Linked DNA regions of Homo sapiens. The main gene of each other region encodes a partner of the protein of the gene in region 2 in a complex. Each region holds a gene or a part of one and is shown on either strand. Other genes may lie near its edges. The genes, in order: ATP2B1 and NPTN.

The links.
Region 1: the proteins of NPTN (region 2) and ATP2B1 are in contact, whole or in part, in a cryo-EM structure (PDB 6A69), measured with the Homo sapiens proteins. Residues at the interface, in NP_036560.1 of Homo sapiens: Arg245, Ser246, Asn248, Arg332, Arg334, Pro339, Pro342, Phe343, Gly345, Ile346, Glu349, Ile350, Ile352, Leu353, Ile356, Ile357, Tyr360; in NP_001353449.1 of Homo sapiens: Phe954, Asp955, Ile956, Asp957, Glu996, Arg997, Asn998, Val999, Glu1039, Gln1040, Leu1042, Trp1043, Ile1045, Phe1046, Met1049, Gly1050, Leu1052, Leu1053, Gln1056.

Annotation. Positions count from the first base shown.
Region 1 is NC_000012.12:89,697,992-89,706,597, forward strand, and holds part of ATP2B1 (plasma membrane calcium-transporting ATPase 1), read right to left. Parts: intron 1-8,606. UniProt on the Homo sapiens protein: Catalyzes the hydrolysis of ATP coupled with the transport of calcium from the cytoplasm to the extracellular space thereby maintaining intracellular calcium homeostasis.
Region 2 is NC_000015.10:73,560,390-73,568,995, forward strand, and holds part of NPTN (neuroplastin isoform b precursor), read right to left. Parts: exon of another isoform or gene 6,549-8,606; intron 3,397-6,548; exon of another isoform or gene 2,990-3,396; intron 2,869-2,989; coding exon 2,847-2,868; intron 1,582-2,846; coding exon 1,521-1,581; 3' UTR 1,507-1,520; intron 660-1,506; 3' UTR 1-659. UniProt on the Homo sapiens protein: Probable homophilic and heterophilic cell adhesion molecule involved in long term potentiation at hippocampal excitatory synapses through activation of p38MAPK. May also regulate neurite outgrowth by activating the FGFR1 signaling pathway.

The DNA.
Region 1 (8,606 bases), on a different chromosome or scaffold from region 2:
CCTCTAGTAGTGGGGATTACAGGCCCATGCCACTACGCCCGGCTAATTTTTGTATTTTTAGTAAAGACGGGGTTTCACCATTTTGGCCAGGCTGGTCTCGAACTCCTGACCTCAAGTGATCCACTCATATCTTTTATCACCATTCTTCTTCCCATCCCCAGCACAAACACAAATGCTTCCTAAAGTACTTTTATCAAGAACATATAAAGAAATTACAACTCGATAATAGGAAGAGACTGTATGTTACTGGAACCAAAATGTCCATCAACAGGCGAACGGACAAATTGTGGTGTATCTATACAGTGAATCCTCATCAGCAATAACAAGAACTACTAATATACACAACATGGATGAAACTCAATTATGGTGAGTGAATGTCAGACCAAAAAAGAACACATACTGTATGATTCCATGTACATAAAATTCCAGAAAAGTCAAATTATTCTATAGCGACAGAAAGCAGATCGGGGCTGCCTGAGGAAAGGAGGAGCTGGGGTAGGGGAAGGGAAGGAAGATAAGGAGGCACAAAAAATTTAGGGGAATGATTACCTGACTGTGGTGGCGACTGTGGAAATATATACATGCCTCAGAACTCAAGTTTTTCACTTTAAGTGTAAAGTTTATTCTATGCCAATTATATCTTAGTAAGACTATAACAAATTTGTTTATGAGAAAAAAAGGACACAAACTAAATAGAAGTTCTGGATTCAATATGGGTTTCACAGTAGGGTGAGCTGACTGGGACATTTTCTTTGGAGACACAGACACAGCCAATGTCCGATTCTTGAGGTCTTTTACCTTGAGCTGGTCAGGTTAGATAAGACACTTCTATTCTGGCCAGAATTCTGAAAGCTGGGTGAGGGAAGAAGACTGGTGATCTTAACATAAATAGGTAAACACTCGGTTTTGAGTGTGGTACCCTGGTTTTCAACTGTATTCCCAGTGTGCATAGCCTTCTCCAGAAAGCAAGCTTCCAGCCTTCTGCAAGGATGAAGGAAAAGAGATCACAGAGTACAGACAGAGGGAAAGATATCTGGGTATCAAATTCCTAAAATTTCAACCAGTTCTCCCGTTTTGCCCCCCTGTCCCCTCTTCACCATGGGTCCCATGTTTTCCCAGCTTTGAGCTCTCAGGGAATTCTATAAACTGACTTGTTTCTGGGCTTTTCTATTACTTAGAGATCAGCTTTTTAAGTCTACTAAGTCAACGCCTTCTAAAATTTTGGTGTGGGTTTCTCTTCTCCCTTGTGGATTTATGGCTTTTTTAAAAAAGAATTCCCTTATTCTCATTTTAGTATATGTTTGGCAAGAGGCAGAGTTAAATGCTAGTAATATGCCACTTGTTTAACTGAAATCTTAGATAATTTAGCTTTTCAATAAATGTATTTATCTTCATAAATCAAACACGGTGTATCACAGACGAAACGTCAAAATGATGACAAAGTAGTTAAAAGACAAAATTGGAAGGCAAACCTAACAGAATAAAGAAATAAATGGTTGAAAGTTTGGGGGGAGCGGGTAACCTGTTTTTGCTATACAAATTTTGTTAAAAGCCAAATTTTCAAGAGAGAAAAATCAAAACCCCCTGACTTTGTACTTTTTGAGGAGTTAAAGAAACCAAGTGATTTATCCAAGACAAGTGGGCTTTTTAGTGGTGAAGATAAATTTCACATTTAAATCTGGTGAGTCCTTAACATATCATGGAGTAAAAACCAAAACCAAAGGAGACACAGGCTCTGAGAAAGGTGGGTATTTCTAGCAAAAGAAATGCTGTCAGCAGGAGGGCCGGAGGTGATCAAGTTCCAGCATTAAATTATGTACATAAAAACAGTAGTGCTTAAGCTCAAAGGCAGGGTCATCTATTTTTTGAGACAGAGACGGTCTCCCTCTGTCGCCCAGGCTGTAGTGCTGTGGCACAATCTCAGTTCACTGCAACCTCTACCTCCTAGAATCAAGCGATCCTCCTACCTCAGCCTCCCAAGTAGCTAGGACTACAGGTACACGACACCATGCCTGGCTAAATTTTTTTTTTTTTTTTTTTTTAGTAGAGATGAGGTTTTGTCATGTTGCCCAGGCTGGTCTCAGACTCCTGTGGTCAAGCAATCCTCCTGCTTCAGTCTCCCAAAGGGCTGGGATTACAGGCAGGAGCCACTGCGCTCGGCCAAAGACAGGGTAACATAAACTTTACCCTAAATCCACTGTGCATGCAGAAAGGGGTTGACTGACGAATCCTTGTTTTTCTGAGACTCGACATGCAGACAGTTTGATGCTAGAGGAGCTCCCTTTCCTAGGCTTTGTCATATTTCTTTCCCATTCACTGACTGACCTTCCTTGTTTTCAGCCCTCTATTTGCACTGGTACCCTTTAACTCAGTAGTTCTCCGCTATGGTATTAGTTGTCAGGAGTGTCCACACTTAAGTACCTTAAGTTCATGAGTCATTTTTTAAGCAAACAAAAAAGAGTAGTTATAGCACTTACTTTCTTTTGAGCATGAATAGAGAAGAAAAGGACAGAAGTATAGCAAAGAAATTAAAAATCTCTTAGTATTAGAGGTACTAAAAAAATCTAGATATTAGCAAGGGAGAATGGAGTATATGTCAGTATCATCCATGAGTGTCCCAGTAGAAAAACAACTTACTAATCTAACCAATTTCACTTTTGCTGATTCCATTCATCTCTACCTTCAGATTTCTTTTTATTTTCTTCACTACCAAAACCACTCCTGTGCTACTCTTTGACCAACAATTTTATTATGATTATTATTGCAACGTCAATTAAAGCAGGAGCAAGTCTTAGAACTCCTTCCACAATACCTTACCAACAATTAGACCTATAAAATTTAAAAGGTTGGGAGAATACTCAATAGCAGTGCACCTGTAAGGTCTCAGCTGTGCTAATCATAGGAAAATGAATAATTTCTGGAGAACAACTCTTATTTTTTCAAGCATTTTTAAATATAACAGCTTACATACTAAAGCTATATAAATCTTTAGTTACTTAAATGTCTAAAATTACTACTCTATGTATCACTCAGACATTCAATAGAAATGATAAAGTCAAATACAGGCTTTCCTTCTTGACTTCTTGGCAGCTGGAAGAATAATCCATTGCTATACTCTAATACAGACCATATACCTACTCTTCTTCCTGATGCCTAGTGATTCTGTAGCAGGTCATGATCTAACAGTTTGCTCTCAGTTCATGGAACGGCAGCAATGATATGATGCTCAGTCTTTGGTCTGTCTAAATGTGCCCATTCTTCAAAACTCAGCATTACTCCACCCTTTCCCATCATCTCTCTTTGATTTTCTGGTCTGAAGTCCTCCGGGTTGTACACTTCCCATTTATTATCCCTTTGTCTTAGTAATTCATTTGGAGATAACATAAAAGAACTGAGATAAGATATAGGGTTCTATATCACGATATATAGAACTTTATCCAGCAAATGTTCAGGTACTATTTTTTTTGGCATATTGGTTTAGGATTTAGACATTGTGTAGCTTCTGTTAAAGTAAAGCAGAGAAGGTTAAGGAAATTTTTCTGGGAGATTTTTAAAACCTTTTTACCTTTGGAATTTTAACCTTACTCAGATGGGTTCATAAGGCAATGTTTTATTTCTGGAAGATAGCTACATACATTTCACAGAATGTTACTAGGACAGTAGAATTTAGCTTCTCTACAGGCAGGACTTTTCCACTTCTGAATTTCAATGTGGCAGTTAATTTGGTTTTTTTGTTTGGTAAACAGGTTCTTTGCTGTGTCACCCAGGCAGCCTCGAACTCCTGGCCTCAAGCGAACCTCCTGCCTCAGCCTCCCAAAGTGCTAGGACTTATAGGCATCAAGCACAGCATCTGGCCCCTAAGGGTCCTATCAGGTGAGAGGAAAAACACATACACATTCACAACAAAAGGATGAGGGACCACCAGACTCTAAGACCGTCACACAGTGGACAGTCAGCAATACTACAGTATGCAACACAGCTCTCAACTCCAGGAAACACAATTCATTTTGTGTTGTATGTGAACAGCATCCCCTGGAGTTGTGCAAAGCAGTGATCCTGGTACACAAAGTTAACAAGGTGAGATGTTCCACTAAAGGGAGTTTTGTGAAATGAGAGGACAAAACACTAGCCACATTTAGATTCAGCCCTTATTAGCACCTTGAAGTACCAGAGAAGTTCCAAACTGCATAAACCAGCATATCCTGGAGTTTGGTTGTGCCTCTTTCCCCCAGGAAATCCCTATTAATATTTTTTGGAACCAGCATTCTAAAACACAATTTAGAAAACACTGAGCTACTTTATAAAAGGCCTTCAGAGTCAAGTTGTATTTTGATAAAGAGAAAAATAAAAAAAAGATGAAAGTTTTAGTGAAGAAACTGTGGTTTAAAATAGGTTATTGAAAAACAAAAGAAAATTCTGGCACAAATATGAAAGGTAGATTAAAGCAGCAGATCTGAGAGTTTTGAGAGTACAAGATTATTATTTAAAATCCTCCTGAGAGAGAACTCACTCACAGGGTTAATACAATGAATAATAGATCCACATTGTTAATAAAAAAGTATTTAAAAAGCATCTTTCAAGTTAAACAGTCAAATCTTCTTTAAGACCTATTTTTTTCAGAAAACATAAATTTGACTCCTAAATTTATCAGGTCTGTACAGTAGTCATGCCAGTTTACAGTTAGGCAGTGTAATCTCAGATTTCACAGTGTAAGCAAGCATTGGTCCATTCAACACTACCTTTATTTGTTCCCTCAGAGGCCCAGGTGACAGTAGTATTACTACAAAAGCAGGTATCCCATATTTTAAGAAACCATATTGTTGGAAGTCACTGTACTTAGAAATACCAAATATTCTTATAACTAAAAACACCACATACGATTTGGAATAGCTGACACTGTCCTAGGAAAAATTTAATAGAAAATAGCTTTTAAAAATATGGCAAAAAAAAATGTGCCCACAGTTTATTTGGACCTCTCTGCCAAAAATATTTATTAATTTAGATTACCATAAGCTTTAGTAAATTACAAGCTATGATTCCTAAATAAACCTTAAGGTGTAGCCAACAAGACTAAGTTTTGGAACAAACAAAAACAGGTTCCCAACAGTCTTGAGATGAACCTGCTTTGAAATTAATTTTATTATAAAATATATTTTAAATGCAGATACAGGCTATTTGCTATACTGTTATAAATGAAGCAAAAAACAACTGCATTTCAAAACTGGTCTTAAAGAGGAAAATTATTAAAGGCAGGTAATTCACGTGGATATGGTATTAGATAAAATAGTTCCAAAAGTCAGAGTAGATTGGTGAACTACACAAACGGTTATTTAACATTTAAGTGAGACAGCAGTAACTTCTGTTTTAATGCATAAAATAGTAAATTATCAATTAGTATGCTATCACTAATATTCTTGGAAGATCTACTTGCTGTTTTTGAAAGAGCAACTGCTTGTTAACTAAAATTAAAGAGAGCTATCTATCCACTAACTTATGTCCTTTTAGTCTGAAGGAATATCCGATCTTTTCTTCTAACAAAGAGCTAGACTAAAGGATAAACACACACTACTGTAAGGATACAGCATGCATTATTTTTATGAATATAAACTCTGGTGTCTAAGTCATTTGAAAATGGCAGACATTAAGACATGAAAATAAAAGAACATTCTCTAATAGTTTACAGTGCTTAATAAGTAACTTAAGTAACCACAGATGGATCTTCTGAAAGACTGGGCATACATAGATAACAGAAATATTTTCAATTTATCAGTTCTAGGATTGTCACAAAAACCATCGACATCAACAAATCAAACTTTGCTACTGATTTAGGTATCTCTACCATGTAACTTTAACTTAGTTATAAATGCAATGTCAATGTTTCTCAAAATGCAGACTACTGTAGCATTTGGCCCCACCTCAAATCTGCTGAATCAAAATTCCAGGGGCAATGCCAAGGAATCTGCACTTTCAGTAACTCCCCCAGGTGATTCTTCATGCACATTAATGCTGGAGAACCACACCTTTCTTGTGAGATTTATAACCAGGTTTTGGATTTCAGGAACTAAAACCTCCTCATTTGGAACCTTTTAAACTAAATTTCATTACAGAACAAATGAATATTTCAAAGAGATTTAGGTAATAAACATGTTATAGTATAAAAACAAGTGCATAAAAAGTTACAGCAGAAATTTAAAGAAGAAACTTTTAGTACAGCACATTTTATTTTTATTCAAGATTTAAGACACCCCTAGGCCAACAGTTCTTTGAAATCAAAATTCCTAACTTAAAAAAATCCACAATATTAAAAATATAGTATTTCAGATACGTTCACATTCACTCAGCTGTTAAGTAAATCAAAACACAAACTGTTTGTATTACACCAAATATAAGTAATGATTAAATTTATAAAGCTCAACCCAAACAAACCCATTCATATTTCTCTATTAAATTTACTCTGATCAAAACTGATTTTCCATACATAACTTTCATAAACTTACATAAACGTGTATAATGAGAAGAGCAATGAGCAAAATCTAGAAGCCACCTAAAGTCCAGTTTGGGCTAAAAAAGCTGCTAGCTATATGACCTTAGGGCCTAGACAAATCACTTTGCCTACCAGAAAAAAAACAAAAAACAAAAAACAAAAAAAAGTACAATTGTCTGCCTTACTCACCACACAGGATTATTGTGAGAATCAAATGAGGTCATATGTAAATACATTCTGAAAACTGTAAAGTAGTTAATAATAATACCTGTGATTTCTGAAGACAGCAAAATTTGAGAGACACTATCTTTGGGCACCTGCTGTAAAATACACAAACTACCACCAGAAAAATTAAAATGTATATGCCACTAAAGAATCAACGAAGAACATAAAAACTGACCATTCAGATTTAATTAGATATTGGACACTATTGAGTATACCGTATTCTGAAAAATACAAATACAAAAATTCGATTCGATTACCTGTCCTATGTCCCCATTTATAACAGAACCATTTCTTGTGTTAAGATATAAATGAAATGTGATGGACCACGAGAGTTGGTAATTGTCAAAACTGGCCAGTAAGTATATCATTCTCTCTACTTTCCTATGTTTGATAATTTCTATAATAAAAAATTTTAACAAGACAACAATATATGTGGTATGTATAGATAACATTTCTAAAAGCTAAAAAGTGAATTTTTTAAAGTTATTTATCTTTATGAAAATTATTCCCATAACCATTGTATGTTATTTTCCTGGCAATGTCACCTCAGATTCCACCTAGTCCCAAATAAGCTACTATTAGTACCTTTATTACATATCATGACAGCTACTAGAAAATAATTATTCCCTTCCATCTGGTCAATACTCTTGCCCGAGATGCAAAAACCTAAATGTTTGTTTCTGCTTTCTGATCCTCAGTCCTTTTATTGTTTTTTGCTCATCCATTACAAAATTCCAGAATAAAAAAGTGAAAACATCAATTTTACTGTATTCATGTGTAAAATGTAAGGGAAAAAAACCAAATATTATTTTGTTCAATATTACAGAAGACCAATAGTTATAAGTGGCCGTTCCTTTTAAAACTCATTTCCCATGGTAAGAGACTGTTGCATCTGAAATGAAGTTAACATGTCTGTCAGTCAAAGGAAATTAGTAAATCTTACTCTGAAATCAAGGAATCTATGAAAGTATATATAACAACATATAATTACTCTACATGCAACAATCTAATAGCTCAAATAATGTCCTTTATCCCGGGGCCATATTCCATAGTTCGACAGAGAACACATAGCAGTAAGGGGATAAAACACCTTTCATCTCAGAGTTTTTGGCTAATTTTAGTTTAATAAAGACTTATCTACAGCTCAATAGCCAATGCTTTACATTGTCTATAGAGAAATTGCAAGTGTTGAATGAAACCTTAAATGCAGATAGAAGGGCAGTAATATTTTGCGGTTTGTAAGTAAGACTATATGTAATAATATCCACATCTTAATTCATTACTTGGGAGCTAAATCCCTTTTCTCATGTTACATCAAAAAAGGAGGCTGTGCCTAAAGAGACAGTGTTCCTTATACTTATGATTTGGGAAGGAAGGGAAGGGAAAGAAATCTCAACTGTCACTACAGTAACTCTTTTCTAAGTATTAAAATCTCCATTTATTTTTACATGAGATGCACCTGAGAGGAGCCATGTATACAAACCACTTTTTCTAACATGGTCTTTATTAAACTTTGAATATAAGTACACCTGCTCGAAGTGTTCATCTATATTATTTAAGAACAAGCAACTGTAAAACAGTAAAATCACAAAAGGTAAGTTGTTGGAAGACAACAAAAAAGAATTACTATATCTGATCCTGCGTGTTTATTTTAGAATCTGTTAATAGGCCTACAGCTAAAAAAAAAAAAAAAATTGTAAAGCCACTGTCATACTGGTAGGTACCTTTATTTGGTGGCAATGGCTAGTTCAAACCACCTATTAAAAGCAGCTATTACTTTCCTTCTTTTACCAAGAATATCCAGACCATCAATATTATTATAAACACAAATCAAAACTAGTTTCTCATCTCATCTCAGAATGCTAAAATCCCAAGCTTCAATAAAAAAAAGATTTCC
Region 2 (8,606 bases):
ATCATACGTATATACTGCAATTCATTATACCCATTCAGTGGACTGTTCCAGCTTATTAAAGTCACAGGTTAAGCCCTTAAAATTATAGATTTCAGTTTATATTACTCATCTTTATGTACCAGAACTGCACAATTTCCTCATCTGACAACATACAATAAGGAATGAATATCAGCAGCTTAAAAATGAAACAAGCATTTACTTTATTTTGGATTTCTCCCACCCCCAAAAATATAAATATATATATATATATATTTATATACTGTATATATCTGTAGGTTTTGCTGTACTTTACAAAAGTGTATCACTAGATGGCAGCAGTGCATTTTAGAGCTTTGCCAATTTAACAGCTGCATTAAGTAAAAAATGGCGCATGCATGATCTGATCCTCAGAGGACCTTTTCACTTCTATTTAAATATTTTAACAAAGGAAAAAAAAAAGCAACATTCACAGCACATCAAGCCCAAAATAGTTTACACCTTCTACACTGAAGCATTGTTTAAAATGTACCTGGCTAGATCACCCTTACAGGAGAGGCTAAATAAGGCATGCTTTAGACAGTCATTGTGGTGTTGCTCACTTGAAAGGGGAGAGAACCAAAGAGGTCCAAGCAGAAAATTTTAGCAGGTCATGTTGCCACCAGTTTCAGGAACCTAAAGATCTGTAAAGAAATATGTATTTGGAAATTATAAAGGGATTATGCACTGTCACTCACAACTACACCGTGTGCCACACAAAACTTTGGTTCAAACAGCACGCTCAGGGATGTGGTGTGAAATTCTGATCTCCATATGCCTAACAAGATGACATTCTGGCCCTGCTGCTACCTGGCCATTCTTGTCTTGCCCCCAGACGTGAGGTAAGACTAGTAGGCCTCTGGGAATAAGCCACCTAAGAAGGTGACAATTTTCACCTCTTTGTAAAGATATAATAGTAGTGAAAAGTGTTGATTTTAAAATATGTCTTCTGAAATGGCATTTATATAAACATGTGACACAATGCACCTGATGGCGGGGCACACTGGCTCATGCCTGTAATCCCAGCACTTCTGGGAGGCTGAGGCAGGCGGATCACTTGAGGTCAGGAGTTCAAGACCACCCTGGCCAACATGATGAAACCCCGTCTCTACTAAAAATACAAAATTTAGCTGGGCATGGTGGTGGGCAGCTGTAATCCCAGCTACTTAGGAGGCTGGGGCAGGAGAATTGCTTGAACCCGGGAGGCGGAGGTTGCAGTGAGCCGAGATCACACCACTGCACTCCAGCTTGGGCAATAGAGTGAGACTCCATCTTAAAAAATCCAAACAACAACAAAAAACAACGCAGCTGAAAAATGTTCCTTTCCAGTCCCTAAACTGGGCAGACAGAACTGGCTTCATCAGTATCAGCTGCTCTGAAATGAACTAAAATATCTTATAACACCAATTACTGAAGAATTTGTAACAAGGTCAATAGAGGCACATTCATTTGAATATAATTTTTAAGACTGCTACAGAAGGCCATACTTACATTGTAAGCAGTACTTAATTTGTGTTTCTCTGGCGCAAGTTTTTATCTTTGTGATTGTTGGTAGAGTTGGTTTTCCTTTGGAGGAAAAATTGCATTACATGAGTTAAACTCAGTCAATAACTTTTCAAAGTATAACACATGGAAATACAGGGACTCTTTCACTTACTGCCATCCCTGGTGTAGTGAGAAATTTTGTGGCACAATATGAGTGCATAAAAAAACATTCCTTAAGTAGCTACAGGTTAAGTATCCCTCATCTGAAATGCTTGGGATCAGAAATGTTTCAGATTTTGAATTTTTTTAGATTTTGGAATATCTGCATTATACTTACCAGTTCAGCATCCCTAATCTGAAAATCCAAAATTCAAAATGCTCCAATGAGCATTTCCTTTGAGCCTCATGTGAGCACACAAAAAAAACTTCAGATTTTGGAGCATTTCAGATTATGGATTTTGGTAGTAGGTAGACTCAACCTGTATATACCTCATTTTATCCTCCTTTTGACCCCCAAGGCAGACGAGTACTTTCCCTTCGAATCCGGAACTATAATTACGATACAGGTGAGAATATGTAAAACTTTTCTCCACTGAACACAACACCACTGTCCCTTCTTGATAAAAGGTAATCATAAGCTGGCAGTGCTGGGCCCTCTGGTACTTAACAAATTTGGGTGCTGTTTGTCTGCTTCTCACTCTTTAGTCCAACTCTAGGAGATTCTGCCGATCTTAGATTGATTCCATACCTGCAGTACCCTCTCTCTTGGATACGAGCAATTGTTAATGGGGCTAGACAGTTTATCCAGGCTATAGTTCAGCCTCAAATTGCATTACATGAGTTAAACTCGGTCAGTAACAACTTTTGAAAGTATAACACATGGAAATACAGGGACCCTTTTACTACCATCCCTGGTGTAGTGAGAAATTTTGTGGCACAATATGAGTGCATAAAAAAACATTCCTTAAGTAGCTACAGGTTGAGTATTCCTCATCTGAAATGCTTGGGATCAGAAACGTTTTAACATTGACAAAACCGGGAGCCTCAGATATACTGGCCATTTCCCCCACATTTTAAGTATATCAAATACACAAAATTTGAAAAAAAAAAAAGTTTTTTGCATGGTATTCCACTTTGTATGGCCACTGGAAAACAAGACTGCATAACCTATCCTGAGAATCAAGTGGTTTTTAGTCAGATCTGTGTCAAGCTAAGAAATCTACACTGCAACCTTCATTTCCACTCACTGTCTTCCCCTCCAATCTTAGCTACTCCATTTGATTAAACTGCAAACACAACATCATTCAATCAGATACTGTTGAATCAATGTCCAATAAAGTACTTACATTGGTCCAGCTGGTTCATCATCTACATGGTGTTCAGTTTTTTAAAAATCCATGAGAGATAAGAGAAGAAAGGAGAAAACTGTTAGATTCTGCATAAGGATTAACAGAATAGCAAACTGCAAGTGGCAATCATGGCTACTCACAGCATTTATTAAAGGCCATTCCATCTGGAGGTGCAAAACACTCATGGAGTTATTATTTCTAGATTCAAGTTTAAATGGCAGGTATGTTGTTTCAATGGTTTTAGTTAACACTTTGAATGCTTGTCATGAAAAACTGCAACTGTAGCGGACAGATAGGCTGCAACATTGTTATACTCATCTTGTCCCCAAGTTCCAGTGGTTCACTCTTAAATAGATGAGAAGACAAACCAACATTTCAGTTGTAAAATCCTGCTGTTTGTTTTCTTGTGGTGAATGCATGCAGTTTTGGCTCAATCCTGCAATGTGAATGGATGTGTACCATCTGTACATTTAGCCACACATCCTCACTTCCCCAAAGGGCACTCTGTTTTTCTTGCTGTTTTGTAATCTTTAGAAGAGTCTTTAGTCTGGAGAATGAGATTGAGAAGAGGCAATCACAATAGTTCAACCTAAATTGGGTCAGCCATGCTGGGCTATGCCAGCAACAAGTGTATGTATACCAGAGGATGTTCTGTGACACACCGAGGAAAGCTGAACAGTGGTGACATCCCTCTAGAAAAGACTTCAGAAAGACAGGCTCACTCCTGTGCCCTGGCCAAAACCAGAAGCCAAACCCAGGGGAGCCATGAGATAACTTTTTTAAAATCAAAAAGCTGACATTATATGAGTTTAAGCCTTCTTAAATTGATACTTTATGATTCTGATTTATAAGTCTTTCGTGTTTCAACTAAGTGCAACTTGATCCCCTTTAAGCAGAGATACACATTCACAGAGAGAGAATGTTTTAAAAAGACCCACAAGGGGAAGGGAACAAGTAAGTGCTCTTAGTTTGTTTTTATTATACAAAAGTCAGGTAAACTAAATGATTCAGAACAGTTTGATTTCACTGAAGGCTTCTAGAAAAATTCTCAGCAGGATTCCACAAGGGGGCTTGGTGCACATGAAGCAGTTATGGAGATTACAGTCTCAGTGTAGGCATCTGCAGGAGCACATGTCGGGAGTAATGTCTGTCAGAGGGAGACATTGCTCCACCTGTTCCTTCGAGGCAACGGAGAGGCAAAGCCACCGCCAGCACACACAGTGACTGGAGCAAAAAAGGATTTCAAAAAAAAGAACTAACCACAAACCAATGACTCATCAGCCAAAACAATAGGCTAGCGACACACTAGTGTCCACAGGAGTCCACTACTAACAACAGTATACACTATCAAACGGGTACAGAGAACAAACTAAGACTTAAGGACACCCAAGACATCTGTGTGCTGTGTATGCAGTGGAGAGATACAAAGACATACCAGGTACTAAGACACAAAAGCCCAGCCTAAATTCTCCCCTCACAACATCCTAATGCTCAGCATCCCGGCCAAGCCAGCTCAGCTACATGCTAGGAACTAAGCACTTTGGGGATTTAAATGAAAAGACATAGGAGCAAACTTGGAATACTTTTAGTGCTCTGGCTGTGCACTCGAAAATACAAAATTCTAATGCAAGAGAGCCGAATCAAGAATACACCAATCTACTCCCAAATTTAAAATAAAAAGCAGGGGAGGGAGAATCGCAATAGCCAGGCTAATCTTTTCAAAGCATGACACTGTAGGCACCAACCCAAGCACCTCACACCACGGGCTGTTTTTCCTTTTGGAGTGTGGGTATTCCCTGGTGTCTGATTAGTAATGTCACTTTCCAGCCCAACAAGCTGGTAACATGCAAAGGGTTGCATGGAGGTGTTTTAGCGACAGTGCCTCCGGCATAGCTGCCATGCCTGCAAGTGGGAGCAGTTGAGATTCACAAGGGGGCAAAATCCCAGGAGCCCTCTTCATCTGTCTCCCCAAATCCACTTTCACACTGACAAACAAAAGAGCCTCATGTCTCCCCACTCTCCTGGACTGAATCACTATCTGCAGCACCACTCTCCCCTACAGGTCAGACAAAAAAACGACTTGACCCCTAACAGGGAAGTCAGGGGAGAGGGAAAGAACAGAATTACAGAAAAAAGATACAGAAACCAAAGTAAATGAGGATTAAACAGCAAACTGAAATCCAAATTAGTTGTGAAAGTGAATGAAGTAAACTTGAAGAAAAGTGTTAACATTATGAACTGTGCATCGTATAGACTGAAGCGGAGATTAAACAAACTCCAAAAGCATGCATATCGCTCACTTACCACCATGTTTTAAGGGTTTGATGCAATTGAGGGGGGAAAAAAAAGAAGTCATAGTAACCGACAAATATCAACATACCCCAAACCCTCAGGCCAAAAGATAGCCAGCTTAAACAATGACTGTTCTCTCCACCTCAGTATTACAGCCACTGGCTAGATGAGAGGAAGAGGACTGGGGGGATAATGGAAACAAGATGCTTCTGGAATCCACCTTATGAGAGTGAAGTTACCGGTGGAACTGTAGCACACACTGATTTATCTGCGTGTTCCATCTTCCCAACCGAATGGACCACAGCCCTCACTCCCCCTATATCCGCCTCATCATCTAGAAGGGGTGCTCTGCAATGTCTAGTAAATAACGGATTGCCTAATACAATATCACCTCCAAAAAGATGGCTTTAAAGTCCGAATAATGAAGAGTTGACTCTCTGGTCAAAGGTCCTTTGTCACTGCATTCATCTCACTAGAAGGTTTTATGGTTTCTAAATCCACTTAAATTTTGCCTGACCTTAGCAGGTTAGCATTAAACCCAAGAGAGACTGAGTTACTTCCTATTTCCTTCCTTGTTTGGTCCTATTGCATTTTCTCCATGAGGTAACTTGTTATTGACCCAGATGGCCCCTAGTTAACAGACCAGACACCGAATGCATGTTTTAGGTGTCATTTTAAAAGTCACATTTCTTTTCCAATATCCCTAGTCTGTATAAAGCTTCATATGCTACCAAATGTTTTGACCAACGAATAGATTTTGGAACATTAGAACAGCTCTTCATTCTAAAGTGTCTAAAAGAGCTTGGATATATCAGAGCCACTAAAAATGGCCCCCCAAAAAACCTCAAATATCTTCTCCATCAGTAACTTAAAGAGAGTCCCTTTGACTTGCTTATAAAAAATTATCCCAAGGTAAAAACAGAAAGTTCTTTTTTGGTACCAGCACTTCTTTTCTTAAATCAGCTCCTGTTTTAATTTGCTGTCTGTGAGGTCACTAAAATATCCAGAAGAACTGCAGGCCTCAGCAACTAAGTGGGTTCACTCCCCATTCCTCCAGGGCCTGGGGAGGGGAGACTCAGGAGCACAGGCTGACTGCTCCTGGAGTGCAGTCCGCAGGACACCAACACAGAAGGTGCACCCAAGCAGGTGCCCAGCTGTGACATGGATGGAAGCCTAGAGGCTGCTAGCTTGACCTGGTCTTTTTAGAGAACTATCATTTAACATTTTCAGGGAATACAGTCAAGTGGTGAGTCAAGTGAACAAAACAAAGCTCTTATTTGACTCCATGATTCACTTGTTCCTGAAAATACTGAAGGTAAAGGTGATCTGTAGATTAGTCCACCTACAAGACAACCTAGTGGGCACTGATCCTCAAAGAGACCATACAGGGGACTAAAGGAATGCAGGTGGGTGTTTTCATGTAGGAAATGGTCTGAGAATACTCCAGTAGGTAAAGAAAAAAGACATGGGGCTTTTTTTTTTTTTTTTTTTTTAAAGGAAGCAGCTAAACCTCAATCCTAAGCATTTTCAATGTGAGAAATCTAAATATTTGATTTTCTAGTGAAACATACTTAAACTAAACTATGTAAGTTCAAATTTGTGCTTTTATACTTTTGTATTGTTCACTTAGTGCTTTTGTAGTAAGGGGATGAGTTACCAAGAACTCACAGACTGCCCAAAATATGACGACTGTGCATTCATATAAAAAAAGTTCAGTGAGTCTGAAATGAGCCATGGGTGTATCTTGATAATAAAGTGCTATTTGGCAAAGTAGAAGTATGGCAGGCCTATAAAAAAATTCCCATTTTCCTAATGGTATAAAAAAAATCCAACACAGAGCCACAGATGGTTATCTGATAGGTAAACACTTATGACCTCTTAACACTCCCAAGTTTGTGTCAAATATAATGTACCTCTTCGTTTATTCCAAAAGGAGTGTACGTATATATCTATATGAAAATTTGGGGAGAAGCACATGGGAAGGAAGCAGACAGGTAAGTTTGTCCTTCCTATGGAGTGCACAGGGGTTGAGGGGAACTGGCTAAAGAAGGAAAAGGCAGAGAAGAAGGAAACTCACCAAAGAACATTCAACTTTTTCTTTTGTTTAATGATTACTTCCAGGAAAGGAGAAGAAAAGCGGGCAGGGGTGGAAGCAGGATGGAGTTTGAGAGAAAGACAGAAAGAGACAGAGGAGAAAAACAGAATGGAAATACTGGAGCAAGGGCAGGGTGTGAAGATGGAGAGTGGAGCCTGGCCCACACTGGCTGTCAGGAAGGGAAGGAGAGAAGGCAAACATTGCCATCATTCCAGCATCTCAGATTTTTCACCCCAATGCAACAACAACGAAGTAAACGCTGCTTTCATTACAATACTCTCCCAAGAGACTAGAGCAAGGAGGTTTTACTTTGCACTTACCCTGCCGTCATCTCTTTTAAGGGTAGGATTCATTCACTGTCTATAATAACTTAGTTTAAAAGAGGTACTTTCCCTCTAGGAAGCTGTTCAGATTTGCTGGCCACAGATGTCTCCTATAACAAACTGGTCCCCCATTTGATTTCAGTAACCAAGAAAACTCTTACAAAAAAAGAGCTGCTTCCCTGGGCAGGTGTCTGCACTTATCCAACAGAACAATCCTAACCATTTCTCAAATCTAACCTACCACATGCACTGTGATAGCAACCTCATAAGCGCGGTGACTTCTTAGGGCAAAGACTAGACCTCTGCTGGGAACACGCTAGGCTGCTGCATCACTCTCACCAGTGGCAGCCAGCCTTGCCTTAAAATTTAAAAATCAGGTTCTGAAGTCCATCTCTGCCTTCTCTTACCTGACTTTTTAGCTTCTCAACCTTTCCAAAAGGCAGGCTGAGGAAGGTGGTATTGGCAAAGCAAAAGCATTCTGGGGGGATAAAAAGGCCCTTTTCAGGAATGAGGCATAACTGATCCCACAGAGCCAAAGCTGAAAACACACGAAAGACAGGCAACTCTTTCCCTTTACTCCCAGGTCTAAATAAAGGTGCACTCTTGCCTTGGGAGTCCTAATATGTAGCAGGAAAGAAATACCTGGAGAGAAAAAGCATTAGGAGTACATGAAATCCCAAAGAAAGCAGGTTCACTTCATAAAGTAGGAAAGTAAAACTCATGGGGACACTCCCAGGTTGCAGGAAACTAGAGATTCATTTGCAGAGGCCGTCTGCTCCCAGCCAACGTCCTTCCCACGCCTCTGCCCAGCTCACTGCTGAGTGCACATCTGGAGGGAGTCACCAGATATTGTCAGTGTCATCAACAAACCTCCTCACCAGCCACTCACTCTACTTACTGCAGGCAGAGAGATTTATAACTGCTGAGAAGAAAGGAAAAGATGGGGAAGGGGCTGTTGCTCTCAAACATGTCCTCCCAGAGAGTCTAAAGCCACTGGCATGCCTCTGGGGCCACATTCTTTCTGAGGGAGCACCAGATGTCACTTTG